4 linked regions of the Homo sapiens genome follow. The protein of the gene in region 2 purifies or fractionates together with the protein of the main gene of each other region. This does not show direct contact. Each region holds a gene or a part of one and is shown on either strand. Other genes may lie near its edges.

Region 1 (5,503 bases), on a different chromosome or scaffold from region 2:
CCTGCAATTGCAGGTTCCATCTCTTTTCAGCAGTTCATCATCATTCATCAACGTGTCAGAGGTCAGATGCCACGGGAGCACACAGGAGGGGCTTCCCACCTGGAGTGCGAGATAAGGAAAGATGGGTCGGATGTTGTAGTCATTATCATCCGCTTCTCTACAAGGCTGGAATTTATGGTGGCTGCACATTTGGAATGTTTTCTCCTTTTATTTATTTATTTTTAGATCAGACAATCACAAGAGAATATTCTTTTGTTTTATTTTTAGATCAGACAATCACATGAGAATATTCTGTTGTGATCGCTGGCGTTTAGAAGGAAACTTGTCTGGTTTGTGAAGCAATGGAAAACACATCCAGACAGCCTGCTAGTGGAAACTTTGGAAGGGCACTGTCATATGCTTTTTCTCCCACGCCATCAACAAGTGTCCTTTTTTTTTTTTTTTTTTGAGATGGAGTCTCTGTTGCCTAGGCTGGAGTATAGTGGTGCCATCTGTACCCTCCACCTCCTGGATTCAAGCAATTCTCCTGCCTCAGCCTCCCAAGTAGCTGGGATCACAGGCGTGCACCACCATACCTGGCTAATTTTTGTATTTTTAGTAGAGATGGGATTTCACCATGTGGGCCAGGCTAGTCTTGAACTCCGGACCTCAAATGATCCATCCACTTCTGCCTCCCAAAGTGCTGGGATTATAGGCGTGAGCCACTGTGCCCGGTCAACAATCATCTTTTTTTTTTTTTTTTTTTTTTTTACCAGGTACACAATGATGGGAGAGTTGAGTCCTGCTTTCTAACTTAGAAAACGCATGTGTGTTCATCACCTGGTCACTGAGAAACAGCTCTGGAATAGGTGCCATGCAGAAGAAGAGAGGGAACTGGAAAGACCCACTGATCTGTGGGTCTCACAGCCTCCCGTTACACAGAAATTGCTTCTTTTCTCTCATGTTGCGTTCTTCCTCTTGATTCTCGACCCTTCTCCACTCTTTCATTTACTCCACTCTTACTTTGCTTTCACCTCCTTTTGTAACCGTTCATCATCACTCTTCATATGGATTAATGTGATTATCTTAAAAGCATGTAATATGTAGTTGCTGGGTTTGTATGAGTAATGAGTGAACCTGAAGCCAACATAATGATCCCGTTTAGTGCTCCCGAGTTAAGATTCCAGAGTTGCCTGACTTTGGACAAATCACATCTCCCTTTGCCTTTCACCCCCTGTAAACTGAGGATAATGGCTCTTACCTCAAAGCATTGTTAGGATTGGAGAGAACGCATGTTACATACTTAGAAGAATGCTTGGTATGGGTCTCAAGAACTCTTAGCTCTTATTGTTTAAAAAATGCTTATTACAGGGCATCGTTGGTATCTTATATAGGGAATTTCAAGCAGTTTTCCTTTATTGAAGACACAGAGTAAGGTGCTTTGATGGAAACTATTGGGGCAAGATATACAGTACCTAGCTAGAGGTTTCCTGGGTGCATGTATTGTGGAGATATTTTTTTTCTGAGTGGATAGCGCTCTTGTGATACGCTGGGTGAGGGCGAGCAATATTTAGCGGACTGTCCTGTGAGGATAGTAAGGTTATCTGGTGAGAGTGTTAGGTGGCCCAGGCCAGACTTGGGAGAGGCAGGGAGAGAGGGGGACGACGGAGGAGGGCGCCTTGGGGTGCGTCTTGAAAGCTTTGGGAAACCCAGCGGTCTTTTGGGGGCAGGTGGCCCAAAAAGCCTTCTGCGCGCCCAGGGGACGAGGAGGATGCGCGGACCGCGACCGCGATAGTTTTGTTTGCTTTTCTCGGGAGAAAGCGTTCCAGGCAGTTTCCTGAGCTTCGGCCCTCGACGTAGCAAAAGAGCCCGGGCGCCCACGCCGCTCTCGGGGTCTTCTACTGCCACCGGGACAAAGCCCTGGGAGGAGCTCCCGCCCCCGCGAGCCGGACAGGGCGGAGGCTCCCCCGCCGCGCGCGCCCCACCGCTTCCCAGTCCCAGACCCGTCGCCTGCGCCTCCTCCTGGCGCGCCTCACGGTGCAGCGGGCGGCGGCCCGCGCGCCCGGCGGGAGGCGCCTCGGGATGTTTCCGTCTGGTCCTTCCCTCCGCCCCCCGCGCTGACTCCATCCGCTCCCCGCCCCCTGCTCGGAGCCGCCGCCACGCGGGAAGGGAGGGAGCCGGCCCCGAGACTGCATCATTCCGCACCGGCTGCTGCAGGGCCAGAGGGAGCAGGTGGAGCGAGAGAGCGAGCCGCGAGCCGGAGCGCGCCAGACCCAGGGCGAGACTGCAGTGACGCGGCCCGGGAGACATGGCGGACGGGCGTCTCTGAATAAGCAGAATCCGGAGCCCCTCGCTACCCGCGGCCGCCGCAGCCCGGGCCATGCCGCACGGCTGCTGACCGCACGCAGGGGCCGGCCCCGAGGACACATGCGGCGGCCTTTGCCGCCTCGCCCCTGACCCTCTGCCCTGTTCTCCATGTTGCATTTCTCGTCAGTTTCTCGGGCGGTGTAGCTGCCGCTGCCACCAGAGCCGGCGGGGCATCGCGCTGCTCATTCATCCGGCCGCACTTTCTTTTCCGTTTCCACCCATCCCTTCCCATTTCCTTCTCCCTTTCCCCGCCAGCTTCGCATCCATCTCCCCCACCCCGTAACCCCCTCCTGCCTCCATCCACCGGGGCTATGGCCGCAGAAGAGGTATTGCAGACGGTGGACCATTATAAGACTGAGATAGAGAGGCTAACCAAGGAGCTCACGGAGACCACCCACGAGAAGATCCAGGCTGCCGAGTACGGGCTGGTGGTGCTGGAGGAGAAGCTGACCCTCAAACAGCAGTATGATGAACTGGAGGCTGAGTACGACAGCCTCAAACAGGAGCTGGAGCAGCTCAAAGAGGTGAGTTGCCTGTCACCTCTCCCTTTCCTGGCCCTCACTCCCCCCACCCGCAAGGCCCACTCATCATGATCAAGAAGTCATAAAGGAGGTGATTGAAAGGACTGTTTTTTCTTCTAGGGCCCTTTGTTGGTAAGAGAAGATTGAAAGAGTCCATTGTTTCCTCCCCCAAGAGAAAAATTGCCTAAGAAATGAATATATAAGCTGGAATTTGGGAGGCAATGGCTGTTTGGCCTGCGGGGGAGGGAGATTAGTAAGAGTCATCAAGTCTCAGCACTCTAAGACGACATTCAAGTGGGTTGGAATGTATAAATCAAACTTCTCAAAACCGCTGTTATCTCAAACCCAGGTTTCAGCGACAATTTCGTAGTCCACAAAAGTGATGAGGTTTGTGCCTGAGGACCCACAATTTCAGGATTTAGACTGTGTGGCACCTCAGCTTTCCTCTGGATGTAACCACTCCTTGGTGAGAGAGGGAACTCCTCACCAATCCCATTTGACAAAGGCTAGGCAATCTTCATTCTGCTTGGCTTTAGTCATTCTTGTCATTGGGCTGCAGAAGAAAAACAACTTTGCTGGGTGATCCCACTGCCTTGATTTCACCTCGGAGCGAGGCTGGGCCATGTCCAAGTCTTATGAGGTCACCCTGACTAGAAAAAATTGAACTCACCTACAAATAGTCTGAAAGAGTGGTGTATATCAAATACGTGGGTAGTGTTGCATTTCAAATGAGGCTCTTCTGGTTGAAATGATATATTTATAAAACCAGAATATCAAAAATGGGTGATGTATAATGTCTCTTTAGTTTTTTGGTATTTGGCCTCTTTTAAAGCCTGTCGGATGTATGGGAGAAAACAATGAACGTGCTTTGATTTCCTATCAGTCACTCTTAAGAACATACATATTGTTTAAGTAACTCGGTCTTTTTTATCTGATTCTTGAGGCACTATGGGTAGCAAATAACCACTTACAAATTTAAATGTAATATACACTCCTTTTCTGTGTGTCAAGTCCTTATTTTTAGGTGCATATTGACATTTAAATGTTAATTATTGTTTGGCATATAATATCAAAAATCTATTATTTATTTTATGCTGTTACAGTTAAAAGATGTGATTTATGACATACTGAATCAACTTGCCTTCCAATTTAGTGTGTAATATGGTAAGCATTTATACTTTTAGATATGTCTTATTTTTATTTGGATGCCTGTCTACCAAAAAATAAATGTACTACCTATGATTAAAAATCCCAACTAGGAATCTAATTTTTGTGTGTCAGGCTGTAAATTTCTGGTTCCTATTTTACTTACCATGTACCTGTCTGGTCTTAACAACAGCTGGACTTGTTTATATTTTCCAACTTAGATTAGGCTGACATGTTTAAATGCAGTGATGCTAAACCTTGTGAAGTGAGGAAGCAGGATGATGACTGTCATTCTCAGAGATGTTTTGATATTGTCTATACCTATCAACACTGCTTTGCCAAGATAGGGAAGTGCAAACCAGAAAGTGGTAAGCCATCACCTTCTTGATAAAGGAGATGGACTTAATTTAATGAAATGTACCTCTTACTGACTTTGCTGCTTGATTTAAACAATCCTTCTAGGGATATTTCTGTCATTGCACTTACCTTGCATAGCAAACCTTAATGCAATTGTGTTTTGCCTTTGCTACACCATGAGCTTTGCATCCCAAGTCTTTAACACAAAAGCTAGCACACAGTGGGCATGAAATATTTTATGAAAGAATCAGTTTGTACTAGAAGAAGGCACACTTTTATCAAGGGTTCACTAGTCAATATTGATTAGTGTTAGATAAATACTAAGAAAATTAGGATGTATAGGAAGTGACAGATGTTAATAAAACTACCTGTATTAGTTTCACCAGCAGTAATGAGAAAAATGTGAAAAAAACGTTTTGTAGGAATAATGTAACTGTGGTTTCTTAATACAGAATAATGCAAATACCAACTAAAATTTTTTCTATAAATATTTTAATATATATTTTGTTCTATATAGCAGGAGGTTAATAAAAATTTACCAGCATTATTTTTACTAAACGATTCTTGTTCATATATTTATTTTCAGTTGCATTTAGCATAAGTGAAATTCGAGATTCCTAAAAAACTGGTTTATACAGTTATATAAAAATGTATTTTAGGTAATAAAATTATTATAGTTGATTATTTGATAGTGAGGCCTATTATTTTTATTCTTTAAACATAGAATATACTTTAGTTGGAAATATAACTTAAATGAGTTAAATTGATTTCAAGTAACATTTCTTGTATGAAAAGTAAATCCAAAATAATTGTGCAAACTGAGGTGTTCCAACACCTCAGTTTTGAAAAATATTTTGTGAGTGTTTTGATTTTTCAAAAGAAAGTTTTGCTCATCAGGTATGTATAGTAAATGATGTTGCATTATATCTATAAAGCCAAGCATAAAATAAATCTTTGCTTATTTCTAGGATTTTTGAACAAATATGATTTATTTAAAAATAATTGAACCAGTTTATGGGAATGTCAACAGAAAACTACTGTATTAAGTCCAAATTGGACATTAGTAATTTGCAGTATAGCAACATGGCTCAGTCTTTGCAGATCATTTTGTTTTCCAGAGTCAGTACCCACCA
Region 2 (5,525 bases):
TCTGCTATTAGGTCCCCAGTGTCAATTCTCAATTCTAAGTAGGGAACTCAGAAGCATCCATTAACTTTAAAAGTTTGTTCTTATCTCACAGTATATGATCCCAGGCTCATAATTTTAGGAATAATAAGTTGTATGAATCATCCTGGACCATCACTTTCCTGAGGTCCATATTTGAAACAGCTGTGGGTGTAGAAAGTATGAATTAATCACCTCTTCTTCCCAAATAAAGAATCTTAAAATTACCAACCTCACTGCTTGAGAGAGCTAAGTAGATTGAAAAGGCATGAAGATTTATGGAGGAAGCTCTCTTTTGGAGTTATAGGAAGAAGGGAAATTGATTCCACTAATCCTCTGGCTTCAGGCTCTCTCTAGACTCACAACATATATTCTTAGGCTTGAGAGTTGAGGACTCAGAAATGCTGTTTGGAGGATGGATGAAAGGGGACAATGACCCTCAGTTTTCGAGGAGCACAGTCCTCCTATGTAGGACACTGGTGCATAAGGATCAGAGTGTCGCACTGCTTGGAATATTCTCCAATTCTGAATAAAGGGTATATAAGTCATTATACATGGTGAATTCCACCACCAGATAAGATTTAAGGGTAGCAATTGTAATAAATCAAGGCCCTTGGCCCAGCTGATGTACCCTATTCTAAGTCCCCAGTTGGACAGATTTTCGAGCTTTCTTAAACAAATTTGTGTGCATCACAAATGCTTTTTCTGCCTGTCATGTAAAAGGCATCAACAAATATTGACTGGATCATCTGGACCTGACTTAGCTGCCCTTTGGAAAGTTCTGTTCAATCAGCTGGATAGAGCTGTTTGTTTTCCTCACCTAACCCTCACAGCTATCCTAGAGGTAGGTATCACTATTATTATCCCTCAATTTAACAAGGGTAAATTTGAAGTTCAGAAGGGTCAAGAACCGTAGGCGTAGGCCACGCATGCAATGGCATCCGCATGTAATTCGAGCACTTTGAGAGGCCTGGACGGGATGATCCCTTGATCCCAGGAGTTAGAGGTTGCAGTGAGCCCTGATCGCGCCACTGTACTACAGCCTGGGCCACAGAACGAGATGCCGTTTCAACAGCAACGGAAAAAAAAAAAAACAAAAAACGAAACAACAACAAAAACTTTAGGCATAAAGGCACTCAGGCTGAAGGGACCGATTGGAGTGCTGGCTTGAACTCGTTTTTCTGAGTTCAATTCCAGTGCTCTTCCCTTAGCAGTGTGCTGGAGCTACTTCCTGGAGCCGGGCAGCTGCAGGGCAGCGCTGGGGAAAAGACTGTTCTCTGGCTACATAGCAGCCTGGCTTCTCCAAGCCGGAGGGAGCTGCGCTGACCACTGAAGGCCTTTCTGATGCAACCCCTTCCAAGTAGAATCCATCGCAGCCTTTCAGATCCCGGAACCCAGAGGCTGTGTCGGTCCTGACGCACTGGCTTGGCTGGGCTCCGGTACGAGAGGGATCTCTGCAGCTCTCGGGCGAGGCAGTTGTGGGGAGCTGTAGGCTGACTTAAGACCTGGAGGCCAAGGAGGGGTGGCCAGGGGAAAACTTTCTCTATTTTGTCTCTCTGTGATGTCGCAGCTTTTCTCAGTCACTCCATCCAACGCCACCCACTTCAAACCTGAGATCAAGTGCAAAAAAAAAAGAGGGTGGGGTCACCCCTGGGCTGGAGATGCCGCTAGCCGCAGCCTGCCTACACCGGGCCGAGCTCCTTGGAGAGGGAGGGACACCGGCTCTGGCTGGGGGGGCGCGGAGTGCCGTGGGGAAATCGGGCGGGTGGGGCGCGCCCAGGCGCGGTCGAGTTGCCCCGAAGGCCGCAGGTGAGGGAGGGCGTGGGAGGCGCCCCAGGAGCTGCCTCTAGCGAGTGCGGCACCACGTGTCCGGCCGGGGCGGGGTCGGGCGTGCCCTCGGAGCCCAGAGCAATCGGCGGCAGTGGCGGCGGCGGCGCGTTGGAGCCTCACCAAGAGCCGCCGCCCGCAGCCCGCGCCGGCTCAGCGCAGTCTCCTCGCTCCGTGCTCGCAGGTGCCTCCTCCTGGACGGCGGCAGCGGCGGCGCGAGGAGCCGGCGGGCAGCGGCGCGATGGGGCCCCTCCGCGAGAGCAAGGTAAGGAGCGCGGGGCAGTGCGGGCACTGGAGGGCGGGGAAGGCGGGCACTGCGGGGCGAGAAGCGGCGGGATGAGAGCTGGAGGGGTGACATTTAGAGTCTGGGGAAAGGTGGAAGGAGGTGGTGGTGGGGTCTGGAGAAGGCAGGAGGCATTGCTTAGGAGTTGAGATCCAGGAGATGGGGAGGTGGTACTGGAGGAATAGATTTTGGAGAATGACATGATTGGAGGGTTAATCCCACCTCCTGAAACTGGGACTGTGGGGTGTAGCTTTCAGTTGATATCCTGTGTGTGTGATGTGAATGAAAGGAATTTGATGCATCCGCGACTGGGAAAAGAGGACTCCCGCGTGTCAGTGACCCTGCCTTAGCTCAGGGTCTGCGGTGTGCCCGGCGGAGTGGCTGGCGCATGGTACCTGCTGGGCGGCAGATGTGCAGGGCGAATCCGAGGCTGCGTGCGGCTGGCGGCCCCCGGGTAGAGTGGATGCCTGAGGGCCCTCCGAAGTTCCCCATTGCTGAGGTTTACCCTTCAATTTATGCCATGTGCCGGCCTCCCAGAGGTGTTTATTTTGGCCGTGACCCTTCCTGGTAAGCCGGTGGAAGGAACAGTAGGTCATGTTTCGAAAGGGTGTTTGTTACCTAAGCCAAAGAGTCCCTTTCAGTGGCAGAGGTTGGAGGAAGCAGTGGAATTTTTGCAAAACGCTCCTCCTAGGAATCCATTTTCATAAGGCAGGGTGGTGGTGACCCTGCAAAGCACTGGATTTGAATTTCGTTCTACTTCTGGCATGGTGTGCAGAATTGCCTAAGCATCTCTACCCCATTTAGCCTGTTTCCTCATCTGAAAATAGGGACATTCATTGGTGTGCTCTCTATGTACAGTCTGGTGTGTAAAGATCAAATGAGAAAATGGTTGGAAAAGCACTTTATAAGTTGGAAAACATTGTGAAAATATTACTGTTACGCATTTTTAAAACCACGAAATGGCAGGGTACTTCATGCTGCGTTTTTAAGGAGAAAGAAAAATCTCTTCTTATGGATGTCCTGTAAGGAAAACAAAAATTAAAGATGATGTAAAAGGTGGAGCCATCTTCCCGAGTATCGGATTTGTGTTTGCTTTTCTGTTGGCAACAAGCCTTGTGTACCAGGATATTAACGAATAATTAAGATCCTGTCCAGAAGAGGAGGGATTTTAAAGATAATTGTGTGTGAGCTATCAGGAAATAACTGTTCCAGGTATAGGGTTCAACTTTGTGAGGAGACAAGAAAACAAGTCAGACTGTCACAGCTAATTTAGGGAAAGCAAAATGGAAGTCTGAAGGCTATCAAGTAAGCCAGAGTGTGGTGTTAATAAAGAGCCTTTGGGAGGCAGAAGCTTGAATGTGATAGAAGTCAGGGTGGGAAGGTGAGTCAGGACCAGCATAGGGAAGTAGGATGGCCTTCCAGCTAGTGAGTGGAGGTGTGTATATGTGTGTGTGTGTGTGTGTGTGTGTGCCACACAGACATGTGCTATTCAGTAGATTAGAAAGGTTAACTCATTGGAAGAGTTTTGAAGCTCATTTCAGCAACTGAGATAAGAAGGACTACTCTGTGAAGACTCAATACTCAGAAATGTGATTTCTTAGAAATTGATCCTTGAAGGAACCGACAGGAGTTAAGAGAGGGAAACGCGTTTCCTTTTGTTTTCTTTTTTGATGTCCAATTTTGAGAAGGAGCACAGAGTGCAGCATCATGACAAGGAGATTTCTCGAAGCCGAATTCCCCGGTTGATTCTTCGGCCCCATATGCCCCAACAACAGCACAAAGTGTCCCCAGCCTCTGAGTCTCCTTTCTCTGAGGAAGAGAGCAGAGAGTTCAACCCCAGCAGCTCTGGGCGCTCAGCGAGGACCGTTAGCAGCAACAGCTTCTGCTCAGGTACAGTACCCTCGGGAGGCCACCAGAGGCGTGAAGCGTGTGCACTGCAGGTGCATTGTGAATGGGCCCATACTGGGTCCCTTATAGCCTAGAACTACACTTCTACTATTAGGATGAATTGTAGAAGGTGGTACATTTCTGGCTGTTGTGACCTACAAACACAGCAGTTTCATATAGTTCAGTTTATTGGAATCTCACACCTGAATTTTCATATGTTATTCTAGCTTATAATTTCGAATGTAAAATCTAACTTCTTGTTTCTATGACTTTTTTCCTTTGTTTTATTATACTTTAATTTCTGGGATACACGTGCAGAACATGCAGGTTTGTTACATAAGTATACACATGCCATGGTGGTTTGCTGCACCCATCAACCCATCATCTACATTAGGTATTTCTCCTAATGCTATCCCTCTCCTAGCCCCCACCCCCTGACAGGCCCTGGTATGTGATGTTCCCCTCCCTGTGTCCATGTGTTCAACTTCCACTTATGAGTGAGAACATGCGGTATTTGGTTTTCTGTTCCTCTGTTTAGTTTGCTGAGAATGATGGTTTCCAGCTTCATCCATGTCCCTGCAAAGGACATGAATTCATCCTTTTCTGTGGCTGCATAGTATTCCTTGGTGTATATGTGCCACATTTTCTTTATCCAGTCTATCATTGATGGGCATTTGGGTTGGTTCCAAGTCTTTGCTATTGTGAACAGTGCTGCAATAAACATACGTGTCCATGTGTCTTTATAGTGGAATGATTTATAATTCTTTGGATACATACCCAGTAATGGGATTGCTAGGTCAAATGGTATTTCTGGTTCTAGATCCTTGAGGAATCGCCACACTGTCTTCCACAATGGTTGAACTAATTTACACTCCCACCAACAGTGTAAAAACGTTCCTATTTCTCCACATCCTCTCCAGCATCTGTCCATTCCTGATCTTTTAATTACTGCCATTCTATGACTGTTTTTAAAGATGCATTCCTTTGTTAAATGTAGAAAAAATATTGGATTGAATTTTATACTAGCAACTTCTAGAAGCCTGTGTACCTCTAATTATAAAATTCCCCAAAGATAAAGCAATTCCTAATAAATGAGGTCAAGATCAAGGAGAGTTATAGCCTAAGGCTGGCCTGGCCTTATGGTTTAGTAGGGAAGAGCCCAGGCTTTGTGATCTGTCAAGCCTGAAGGGCTGGAATCCCTGGCCCTTTCACCACTTACATACTGTGTGACCTTCAGCAAGTTGCTTAACCTCCTTAAGCCTTAGTTGTTACATCCATAAAATGAGATTATAATACTTGCCTTGTAGAGTGGCTGTGAAGTTGAATGAGACCAGTACCTAAATGTTCACCTTACACGGTACCTGGCTTACAGAAGTGCTTAATAAATGATGGTTCTTAATACAAGGAACTATGGATGTCTGTTTGGGCACGTGATTAAGAAAGTTTCCTTAAAGTTGTGAGCATGTTTGGTAAGGGCACAAATCTCTTGATAGTTCCTGAAGGTGCCACCATT
Region 3 (4,916 bases), on a different chromosome or scaffold from region 2:
GCTATTTTATACCCCTTGGGACACACTGTAGTATTCAGAGATAGGAGACTTCATGGGCTGCATGGATGTTCCTGGAACTCAGCACACAGTCAGCTCATGGTCAGGTAAATGAGGCCATTTATATGGGTGACATTACTTCATTTGTTGGCTTCATTCACTGGCTGCTCCCCCATCTCCAGGTTCTTGTCATTCTCCAGGCTAATCCATGGGTACCATTATTACCCCCATATTCATTAACAGCCAAACAGCAACACTGGTCCCATACTCCATGGGTGGAAAGGTCTCCAGCAGGTAACCAGCATATCACACGCATAGCAGACTCCTGAGGGTAGGCTGCGTTTTTGAGAACTTAAGACAATTAACTTCCAGTTTTTCCTTTAAATGTTACATTGGTCAAGCGTGATCTATATTCCTAATGGCCTGCCTCAAATTACATGTGTGTGAACCCACTGGTTTTTCTTGAAGTCTGGGGCAGAGTGCCGTATGCTCTGGGCCTTTTCTTGATCTACTTTAATGCTTTTTAGCTGTTAAAATGACTAAATACGTATCTGGCTATCCAGTGGAATTGTCACAAAATGATATTTTTTCCAAAACCACACTGATTTCAGTCTCTGTCATTGCATACACACCTCTGGAGGCATCCTCTATACATAGTGACTGCTAAGGTTGCTAATGTCTTATAGAAGCAATGGAGACACAAACAGATGAGTTTCACTTCTTTCTTGTGCTTGTCCTTGACCCAGTGAAATGTCTTTAGCTTAGCAAGGATGTCCCAAGGGAGCCATGGCTTTAATGTTCTTACAGCCTATTCTGCTACCACTCTGGCCATGACCCTGAATGCAGGGATGAGAGAGTAGGAAGACTAAACACATTGAGCCAGCCACAGTCCTTTCCATATGTACTGATGGATGAATGGACTGTTAGAACAACGTAGTACATTAAATGTAACCAGAGTGTACGGATGCAAAGAAAGCTAATTCGAATTCTGAAAATCATGGCAAGCCAACAGGAAGCCAATTTTTTGCAGAGGGGCAACAACTTTCATAAAGGGACATTTTGTTTCTTGAAACTGTGAATATGTTTCTAAAATTGTGGACAGAATTATTGGTCATGTGGAACCAAAATCCCTTGATGTTCACTGCCCTGCATTGAATCTAGCACAAATGCATTTGCAAGTGTAGTGACCTTCTGCTTATAATGAAGTTGTTCTGTGGGCCAAAAAAAATGAGTTCACGCTGAGAGGCCCTCTGCATTCTGTGATTCATATATGCATTTATCTGGACAATGGAACTTTGCAGGAAAGCAAATCACATGCAGGGTGCCCTTTCTCTTACATGTCAGTCTTTTGGTTCTCAATTGCATTTTCAAACTTAGGGAACCACAGACTTCTTCATGGAGGGCTGTAAATCATTCCATGCATTTTGAAATTGTTGGAGGAATGCACGAAGAATATTGAACAGGAAAGGGTTTTCTGAATTTCTCCAGGAAACCTTAGCTGTTAGAGACTGAGAAGGTAGAAAAGTATAATGGGTGGAATCCAGAGGCTGGGATAGAGATTGTCTTCAGAATCTTCCCGCCTAAAACTCTCATTTACAGTTGAGGAAATGGAGGCACAGGGAGGTTGAATGATTGCTGAGGTTACCCAGTTAGACCTGGACTAAAGCCCCAGTTTTCCAACTCTCAGTTCACGGCAGTTTCTGCTACCCCATTTTTTCTCTCTGCCTCTCTCTCCCAACTAATTTCCCCCTTAAATTAAGAAAAAGAATTAAGAGGAGTATTTCTCAATATATAGTTCACAACCACTTATATTGGAGTCAACTTGGATGCCTTTAAAATGAAGATTTCTAGGTTTCATCCAGACCTGCCAAATGAAATTGAGACCCTGGATATCTGCATTTTCATAAGCTCCTCAGTGATTCTTATGCACATTGCATTTTTAGAACCATCAATCTAGGGTCTATAAATAGGCAGCACATGGCAGGAAATGACCACTAACTTTTAACATCACTGAATTTATCTTGAGAATATAGTCATTCATTGTTCCCTGCTGTTCTTAGTGCTAGTCATGTAGTGAGCTGAACGGAGCTAATGATGGTTCAAAGAGTAATTACGCCAGCTTTCCTGTTTTTCTAATACCTGCTCTTGGCATAACTCTGACTATTAATATTAGCTCCTTTTTTCCTCAAGTGGCAATATTTATCTGCTGTATATTGCTCTGCTGTACTTGGTGGAAGGTAAATGAATGCTTTTTAAGTATCCTCAAATATACAGGCCCACTCCAGACTCTGTTGATACACAGTACCTGGCCTCAAAATATCTCCCAATGAATAGACAAATAGTTTAGTCAGAGCCCCAATTACCTCTCCATGCAGATAATTATTACTTCTGCCATTTAAGTGAAATTTTAGTACATTGCTTATAGCAATAAATTTTGGAGCATATTTATGCTGTCCCTGCTTCTATTCATAGCATAGATTTAAAATCCCATTTCTGTGGGGGAATAGCTCTGAACTGTCCTTCAGTATGAATTTGGCTGGTAATAAATTAAATAATACCACAATCTCATTTTCTCCCACAGTACCTAGCATACTTAAAAAAGCAAAACAAACAAACAACCAAACAAAATCCTAGTTTCCAATTTACCCTGCACACAGGAGAGTTCCATATTTCATGACAGACTAGTAACTGAGCAGCTCTGTAGGATTACCGAGCTATCAAATGTGTTGTAAAAATGTGATGTCATGGAGCTTCGGAAGTCTCATTACAGAGTTTAACAGGTTTTGTGGTATATTTTGCAGCACGCCCTTTCTGACAAGGCATGTGTGAAAGCCTTTGACCCAAAGACAACTTGCTTACAGGAATGCCTTATCACCACCTTCCAGGAAGCCTACTTTGTTTCAGAAAGTTTTGAAGAAGCCAAAGAAAAGATGAGGTAAACTTTTTTTTCCTCCTAGCTAGAGAAAATAACTTTTTATTTTTCTGTCTCTATTCCTTCCTTTTATCTATCCCTCGTACCAATGAGGGTTGATCACATCTCTTTCTACTTCTGTTTATTCTGCAGGGACTTTGCAAAGTCAATTACCCGTCCCTTCTCAGTATACTTCAATCCCTACACACAGAGTATTGAAATTCTGAAAGACACCAGAAGTATTGAAAATGTGGTGCAGGACCTTCGCAGCGACTTGAATACAGTGTGTGATGCTTTAAACAAAATGAACCAATATCTGGGGATTTGATGCCTGGAACTATGTTGTTGCCAGCATGATCTTTTTGGGGCTTAGCAGCAGTTCAGTCAATGTCATATAACGCAAATAACCTTCTGTGTCATGGCTTGGCTAATAAGCATGCAATTCCATATATCTATACCATCTTGTAACTCACTGTGTTAGTATATAAAGCACCATAAGAAATCCAATGGCAGATAACCACTCATTGTATGAAATAACGTATTATGTTTAAACATCTTAAAAAGATTTGACATTCCTGCTTAGTGTCCTTAACCAAACTGCATCTAGTTAAAATTTGTAACAAATAGCCCTCTTATGAGTCTCATTTATGCCCTTTTCTTTTTCAGATCTAAGCCTTTCCTCTGTGTTCATTAGATAAAATGAAAAAAAGCAGTGAAGCTGTTTCCATTTTCAATAGTATCAGTGTTTTCACGCATTATTTGAGATAAACCCAGAATTGTAGGAAACTTCCCATCACAATAACAAAGGTTCAATATTCTATTTCAAAAATTGTTGAGGTAACACAGCAGTTGGAATGATTTTTAGGTTGAGTATTTACACAATGCAAGAAAACACCTTTTTACAAATGGAATTATGTAGGTTGCGTTGACCTTGTAGAACCTGAGTTATGACAAGCTTCCTGAAGTATTTTGGAAGATAGTACTTCCGGAAAGGACATTAGGAAAGACTAAACAGTGGACAATCAATCTTGGGACTATGAATTTTATGCTGGAATAAAGTAAATTATCATGTTCAGGTGTTTAAACAATTTTTTTCTGGTCAGAGGAGAATAAAATCACAGAGCTATAAAGATCATCTTTGATTTCAGAGATGTGGAAATTGAGTCACAGAGAAGTTGTGATTTGCCTGAAGCAGTACAGTGAGTTGTACACTAACATTCACAGTCCATTGCACTTTCCTTTTGTTTTGCTGATAAATTCGTCCCAGTGCTTGCATGTGTTTCTGTGTCATCCGAGATGGGAAACTTCATCTTGGTGTGTGCATGTGTTAATATGTCATTGGAGATAGGAAATAATGCCTATCCAAACTAATGTTTATCAGTAAATAGAACTTGGTTTGTGGTCAAGGGTTGCCAACTGTATATATGTTGTTTCCCCTCACAGCTGCAAATCAGGCCAAATCTATGGAAGGTTCTCCACTTTCCTAAAGTTTGGGCAACTTTGGGTAAACAGTAGTGATGCAGCACACAGTTTTGGTGGTCTTTGCAGTAAAAGATGAAATTAAGTGGTTAAGTGAACAAATAGAAAACTGCTGAGAGTGAATGAATTTCTTTGGATTCCCTCACTGAACATAACTACTGTTCTTCTGATTCTGCATTTGGTAGTAAGGAACACTGGACTGGGGAAGGAAGGGGCAAGAAAAACTAGAGAAAAAAAATGACAAAATAACCTTTAGCAATTTAAAATATTTACTTGAGCAATTTCCAAAGATGTTCTTTTAGTAAGAAATTACATATAATTTTAAACTAATTCATACTCTTATGTGGAGCCCACAAAGGGTCAGAAATCTTTGGACTAAATATATTCAGGAAGAACATGAGAAAGAGCTAAAAGACACATCAGGGAGAGATCAAACTAAAATGAAAACCCAGAGGTTTGAATATTGGTTGTCTTAACGATTGAGGATCTTTTATCTCTGAAGCATTCTCAGAACAACTGAATTTTGAGA
Region 4 (4,916 bases), about 14 Mb from region 2:
TAAAATCTTTTTGAAATTTCTCCTAGAGTCTTGGAAATTCACAGAGAGAATATGAAAAGCAGGTTGTCCTGTACAGTATCCGCAATCAGTTACGATATAGAAATAACTTAGGTAAGTAGAGCCATGTTTATATTGGGGTGGAACTGACCACTACTCTTTCACATTCGTAAATCTTTCTTTTCAATACATATTTCATAGTACTGAGATTATTCCATGTACAGACTTTAAGAAACTCTACACTGATCCATTCCACCTAACAACAATTTGTATTAGCAAGTAGATTTTTCATTCTAATTCTGATAAAAATTATTTTTAGAGTACTGTTTATGGACTCATTTTATCTATAAAATAATCTTAATTCAAATGTCCTCTTTTTGCCTGAGGTAAGAAAATATGCCATAAAAGAAAAAGTATATTAGTTCTTAGTAATTTTTGACTTTGGGTTGTCTCCATAAATTTTCCAAATAATATGAAAAACTTTATAATAATTGGGACACATTTTAAACATAGTTCATTCCATGATTTTTTTTTCTTCTTTCTAAAAAAAAATTTGTTTATTTATCAGATTATTTTGGTTAGTCTATTCTGTTGCCCTGGTAGTCTTTCACTCCTGTTTGTTACTCTTATTTTAAGCATAATATTTCTGACATTGTTTTTCTTCATGAACATTTTCCATGAAAGTCAGAGGGCTTTTTACATTTAAAAACTAAAAAAGCAGCAAATAATTTTTAAAAATAGACTTGACTTCATTGAAAACGAGCATTCAGTTTGGCTCTCTTGTAAGGTAGTAGAATACAATTCAATAAAGCTCTGTTTTGTACCTTTTTGGGGGGCATGCTGGTAGTTCCATGCTTGTTTTCTCATTTGGCAAGAATTATTCTCTACTAATCTGTCCTATTATTCATTTTACTTCTATACTCTAAAATCTATTTCATGTGATATATTTCTTTGTTCCAACTTAGAATATTTTATTTGTTCTCTTGTAATTTACATACTTTTCTTTTAAATTACTGTTGGTTTGTAAAGTGTTCATAGTTAATATATAACTATAAGAAACCTGAAAAAAACTGGAGAATTTCCCTCTTTTGTGCAGTTAAACATGTCAAGAAAGATGAACGCAGATACTATGAGGAACTGCTAAAGTACAGCCGAGATCATCTCATGCTGTACCCTTACCATCTATCGGATATTATGGTGAAAGGCTTGAGGATAACACCATTTTCATATTATACTGGGATTATGGAGGTGAGTTTACAGTGTGGGTGAGCCAGTGGGAATGGGATGGGACTACATGTCTGGGACTTTTTGCAGATGTTCACCAGCTCTTCAGCTGTCGTCTGCGGTGGACACTCTTTCAGAACTTATAGTGTAAAAAGGACTATTGGTGGCTTGTTAACTGTTTGAGCCACACTGTACAAGTACTTATCCTTATTGATGTTTTTACATTGGGAAGCTGTCTATTTCTCTTCTGGTCTTGAAGGTGCTATTGACCCTTTGTGCTGTTGTAGTACTGATCAGTCATTTATGTTGGCAGAGTCTGTGTAAAATTTATTGCTTTTTAAAACGTGATTAAGGTTGAAAATGTGGGTGACAGAATTGAACATTATGTTCTGAGAAAATTAATGTATTTAGGCTGGGAGCAGTGGTTCACGCCTGTAATCCCAGCACTTTGGGAGGCCAAGGTGGGTGGATCATGAGGTCAGGAGATCAAGACCATCCTGGCCAACATGGTGAAACCCCGTCTCTACTAAAAGTACAAAAATTAGCCAGCCGTGGTGGTGTGCACCTGTAATCCTAGCTACTCAGGAGGCTGAGGGGGGAGAATCGCTTGAACCTGGGAGGTGGAGGTTGCAGTGAGCCGAGATAGCGCCACTGCACTCCAGCCTGGGTGACACAGTGAGACTGTCTCAAAAGAAAAAAAAGAAAAGAAAAGAAAATTAATGTATTTAACTATTCACTAACTGTCTAAAGAATGAATGATGACATAGACCCAACATTATATAATACAGGTGCCAGAAAAGAGAAATATGTTAGTAGTCTTGGCTGTTAATCTCTTTCTATAATTATTAACTTTTAGTTGTTAGCCTTTTTCCAAAGACAGCTTTTAGGCTTGTATTGGATAACTTTAATACTAGTTATATACTGTTTTCAAGTGAGCTTTATTAAAGATTGGCAGTATTTATTTAGTATTCATTTGCTCCTTAATTATGTTTGAGTGCTTCTGTTTGGGGCTCACTAGCCGCTTGAAGAGCAGAGAGGAGCCTAGAACTAAAGGAGTTGGGAACGTGTGGTAACATGAGGTTAGCCCTACATACGATGTGTGCTTTGCTGTTTGCTCCCTTCGTTATCTCCAGAAGCCCCTCCTTCATGGGTGCTTCTGCAGTCCCATGCATCCCGTGTTCCTCTTTTGGAGGAAATACTGGAGGAAAGCGAGAGGCCCGATAGCCCAGGTAGCATAGTGAAGAACCAGGGTAGCATAATGAAGGTGGCAGCTAATCAGGAAGTAGAATAGTTACTGCTGTCTCTTTATTTTTCTAGTGTAGTCCACAAATTTGGGAGCTAAAATAGGTGGAGTTTTTGTTTCACTTATCAGCTTTCATTTCAGTTACATCCACATGGTTGCTGCATTCTGGTTTCTGTTATTCTATCATTGGGTATAGTTCCTCGGTAGAAAACGGGCCTTATCCCCACAGGAAGCAGTGGGTTTGTTATTGGAGAAACAGATTGGGGCAGAAAAAGCTGGATACCAAGTTTAGCTCTTCTACAGATTGGGACTTGTGGGATCAAAGGCCACTAAGTGGTTGTAGTCTTCATTGGTAGTGCATGTTGATGGAGCTGTGCCACATTATTTGGCTTTCTCTCATGGTGGAGATCTAGGATCAGGTATGAAATGTGGAGAGGCTGGAACCCTGAGCTCTAATGGAGCCATTACTTACATAGCTTCCACAGGGCAGAGGTTATGGGGCAGCTGCCTGGGATTCGTAGAGAGCCTCTTAAGAAACCTAGACCTGAAAATCTGCCCTTTAATTACTAGGTTGGGAACATGTGTGGAAAGTGCCACAGGGTGGCATGTATGCTCTAGGTAGCCAAACTATGATCTTACTGCTTCCTGTAATAATCATTGTTATTGGCTGTAATAATATTGTATTTATACACATTTTTATTTAAGGACATTTTAGATTTCAAATTTAAATTTTTTTCTTTTTAAAAGGATATTATGAACAGTGAGAAAAGTTATGATTCATTGCCCAATTTTACTGCTGCTGACTGTAAGTATTTAATTGTGCTGAAGAAGGTAATGTTTAGGTTGTGTCTTTGTGCATCCTGTCATCTGTGAATATTGTCATGTGTGTTTTTAACCTGAAATATGTGAAAAATGAGAACAGTAAGCAACATTATCAGTGAGAATTTTATCAGATGATACCAGATGCATGTGTAAGATTTACTCTAAATGTCTAAGAGAGGCATATTTGAGAGTGGTAGAATCAGAAAAATAAGACTAATCTATATATTTCCAGAGAATGAAGTTCTTTCTGATACTTGGGCTGTGTGTATATTGAATGTGGGAGGAAAACTTGTGCACAGTATTTTTGCAGGGTGACATACAGTTTTTAGTAACTTAACTTGCTGCTGTTTTAGTATGCTTACTTTGGCAAAGTGTATATTTTGAATGTGTCATAATTCTGTTGTTTAAGAAGCTTTCGCTGAGAATTACATTTTGACTTCCTAAAATTGGCAGGACTTCTGCTTTTTTAAAATGTTTTTGTTAGAAGTGTCATCTTGAATTCATCTCTCCCAAAGTTTAGCTTTCATTTATGTTTTGGTTGAAGACGTCCTTTTAATTTGATATTGATATTTGACTAGTAATTGAAAGATGAAAATAAGCTCGGGTTTTTCCTACAATCGCTTGTGAACATATTGAGATTTCAAGATATGTTAAATGTTTTTAAAGGAAAGACTCTTTTTTTCAGGTCTAAGGCTTCTTGGCATAGGAAGAAACCAGTATATTGATCTTATGAATCAGTGTAGATCATCAAAAGTAAGTTAGTACTTTCTTTTTCATTGTTTTGGCCTCATCACACAGTTTGATTAGTTTTTTTAAGTGGTAGAAATAATGAATTGTATGTCTTTGACCAAATAAAATGTACTTAACACAGAAACAATACAAAAAAAACTCCTCAGTATTCTCTAGGTTATAGCATAAATGATTATTTAAAATTTTTAATGCATAAAACATTTATTTTTAAAAATTATTTTTGTTCTCTTAGTCTTTTTATTTGCTCATTCTACTTGTACAGTTCACTTAGTGGGTGAAAAAAGTGTTTGCATTTTCAAATGCATTTTTCACTGCTTGGGTTTCACTTGAGTTTGTGGAAGTAAATCTGGATTTAACAATTAGTGTTTTGAAACAATTTATTTTGAAACAATTTAAGAATGACTTTCTTCATACAATATGTTAATATCTAGAATTGTTAAGATTTTAAAACATGAAGATTTTAAGAAGATATTTATTTAGTCCATTAGAAACAATCTTATGATATGATTGATGAAAGAAGAAAGTGGTAGTTTTAGATTGCAAATTCTCAAATGTTTGTACCATTGCAGAAATTCTTCAGAAGGAAAACAGCCCGTGATCTTCTACCAATAAAGCCAGTGGAAATTGCCATAGAGGCGTGGTGGGTGGTGCAGGCTGGCTATATCACAGAAGATGACATCAAGGTAGAAATCTTTAAAAGTTAAACATAGAATTTTTATTTTTTAGTTTATTTTACAATTTTTAATTATAGCTTATAATTTTTTAAAAAGTAACATTGTTTTCCTGAAGAAAAGGAAACTTAAATTTAAAATTTAAAATGATCTTAGTAGACTAGAATATTGGTGAGTTTTTGAGATACTCTTTAATGGTGAGGGAGACT

Evidence for each region. Proteins that work in one complex are often made in the same cells at the same time.
Region 1: the proteins of SYBU (region 2) and BICD1 purify together in Homo sapiens (affinity purification with mass spectrometry; 2 studies listed by BioGRID and IntAct, with this or other methods). This does not show direct contact.
Region 3: the proteins of SYBU (region 2) and TPH2 purify together in Homo sapiens (affinity purification with mass spectrometry; 2 studies listed by BioGRID and IntAct, with this or other methods). This does not show direct contact.
Region 4: the proteins of SYBU (region 2) and FAM91A1 purify together in Homo sapiens (affinity purification with mass spectrometry; one large-scale study listed by BioGRID and IntAct). This does not show direct contact.

Annotation. Positions count from the first base shown.
Region 1 is NC_000012.12:32,104,675-32,110,177, forward strand, and holds the start of BICD1 (protein bicaudal D homolog 1), read left to right. Parts: upstream 1-2,172; 5' UTR 2,173-2,657; coding exon 2,658-2,870; intron 2,871-2,987; coding exon of another isoform or gene 2,988-3,014; exon of another isoform or gene 3,015-3,216; coding exon of another isoform or gene 3,217-3,237; exon of another isoform or gene 3,238-3,970; coding exon of another isoform or gene 3,971-4,027; exon of another isoform or gene 4,028-4,134; intron 4,135-5,503. UniProt on the Homo sapiens protein: Regulates coat complex coatomer protein I (COPI)-independent Golgi-endoplasmic reticulum transport by recruiting the dynein-dynactin motor complex.
Region 2 is NC_000008.11:109,641,218-109,646,742, reverse strand, and holds the start of SYBU (syntabulin), read left to right. Parts: upstream 1-1,920; 5' UTR 1,921-2,026; coding exon of another isoform or gene 2,027-2,083; coding exon 2,084-2,107; intron 2,108-2,520; exon of another isoform or gene 2,521-2,614; intron 2,615-3,552; exon of another isoform or gene 3,553-3,795; coding exon of another isoform or gene 3,796-3,810; coding exon 3,811-4,015; intron 4,016-5,525. UniProt on the Homo sapiens protein: Part of a kinesin motor-adapter complex that is critical for the anterograde axonal transport of active zone components and contributes to activity-dependent presynaptic assembly during neuronal development.
Region 3 is NC_000012.12:72,028,460-72,033,375, forward strand, and holds the end of TPH2 (tryptophan 5-hydroxylase 2), read left to right. Parts: intron 1-2,798; coding exon 2,799-2,932; intron 2,933-3,061; coding exon 3,062-3,236; 3' UTR 3,237-3,981; downstream 3,982-4,916.
Region 4 is NC_000008.11:123,774,054-123,778,969, forward strand, and holds part of FAM91A1 (protein FAM91A1), read left to right. Parts: intron 1-26; coding exon 27-111; intron 112-1,093; coding exon 1,094-1,245; intron 1,246-3,211; coding exon 3,212-3,269; intron 3,270-3,971; coding exon 3,972-4,039; intron 4,040-4,605; coding exon 4,606-4,719; intron 4,720-4,916. UniProt on the Homo sapiens protein: As component of the WDR11 complex acts together with TBC1D23 to facilitate the golgin-mediated capture of vesicles generated using AP-1.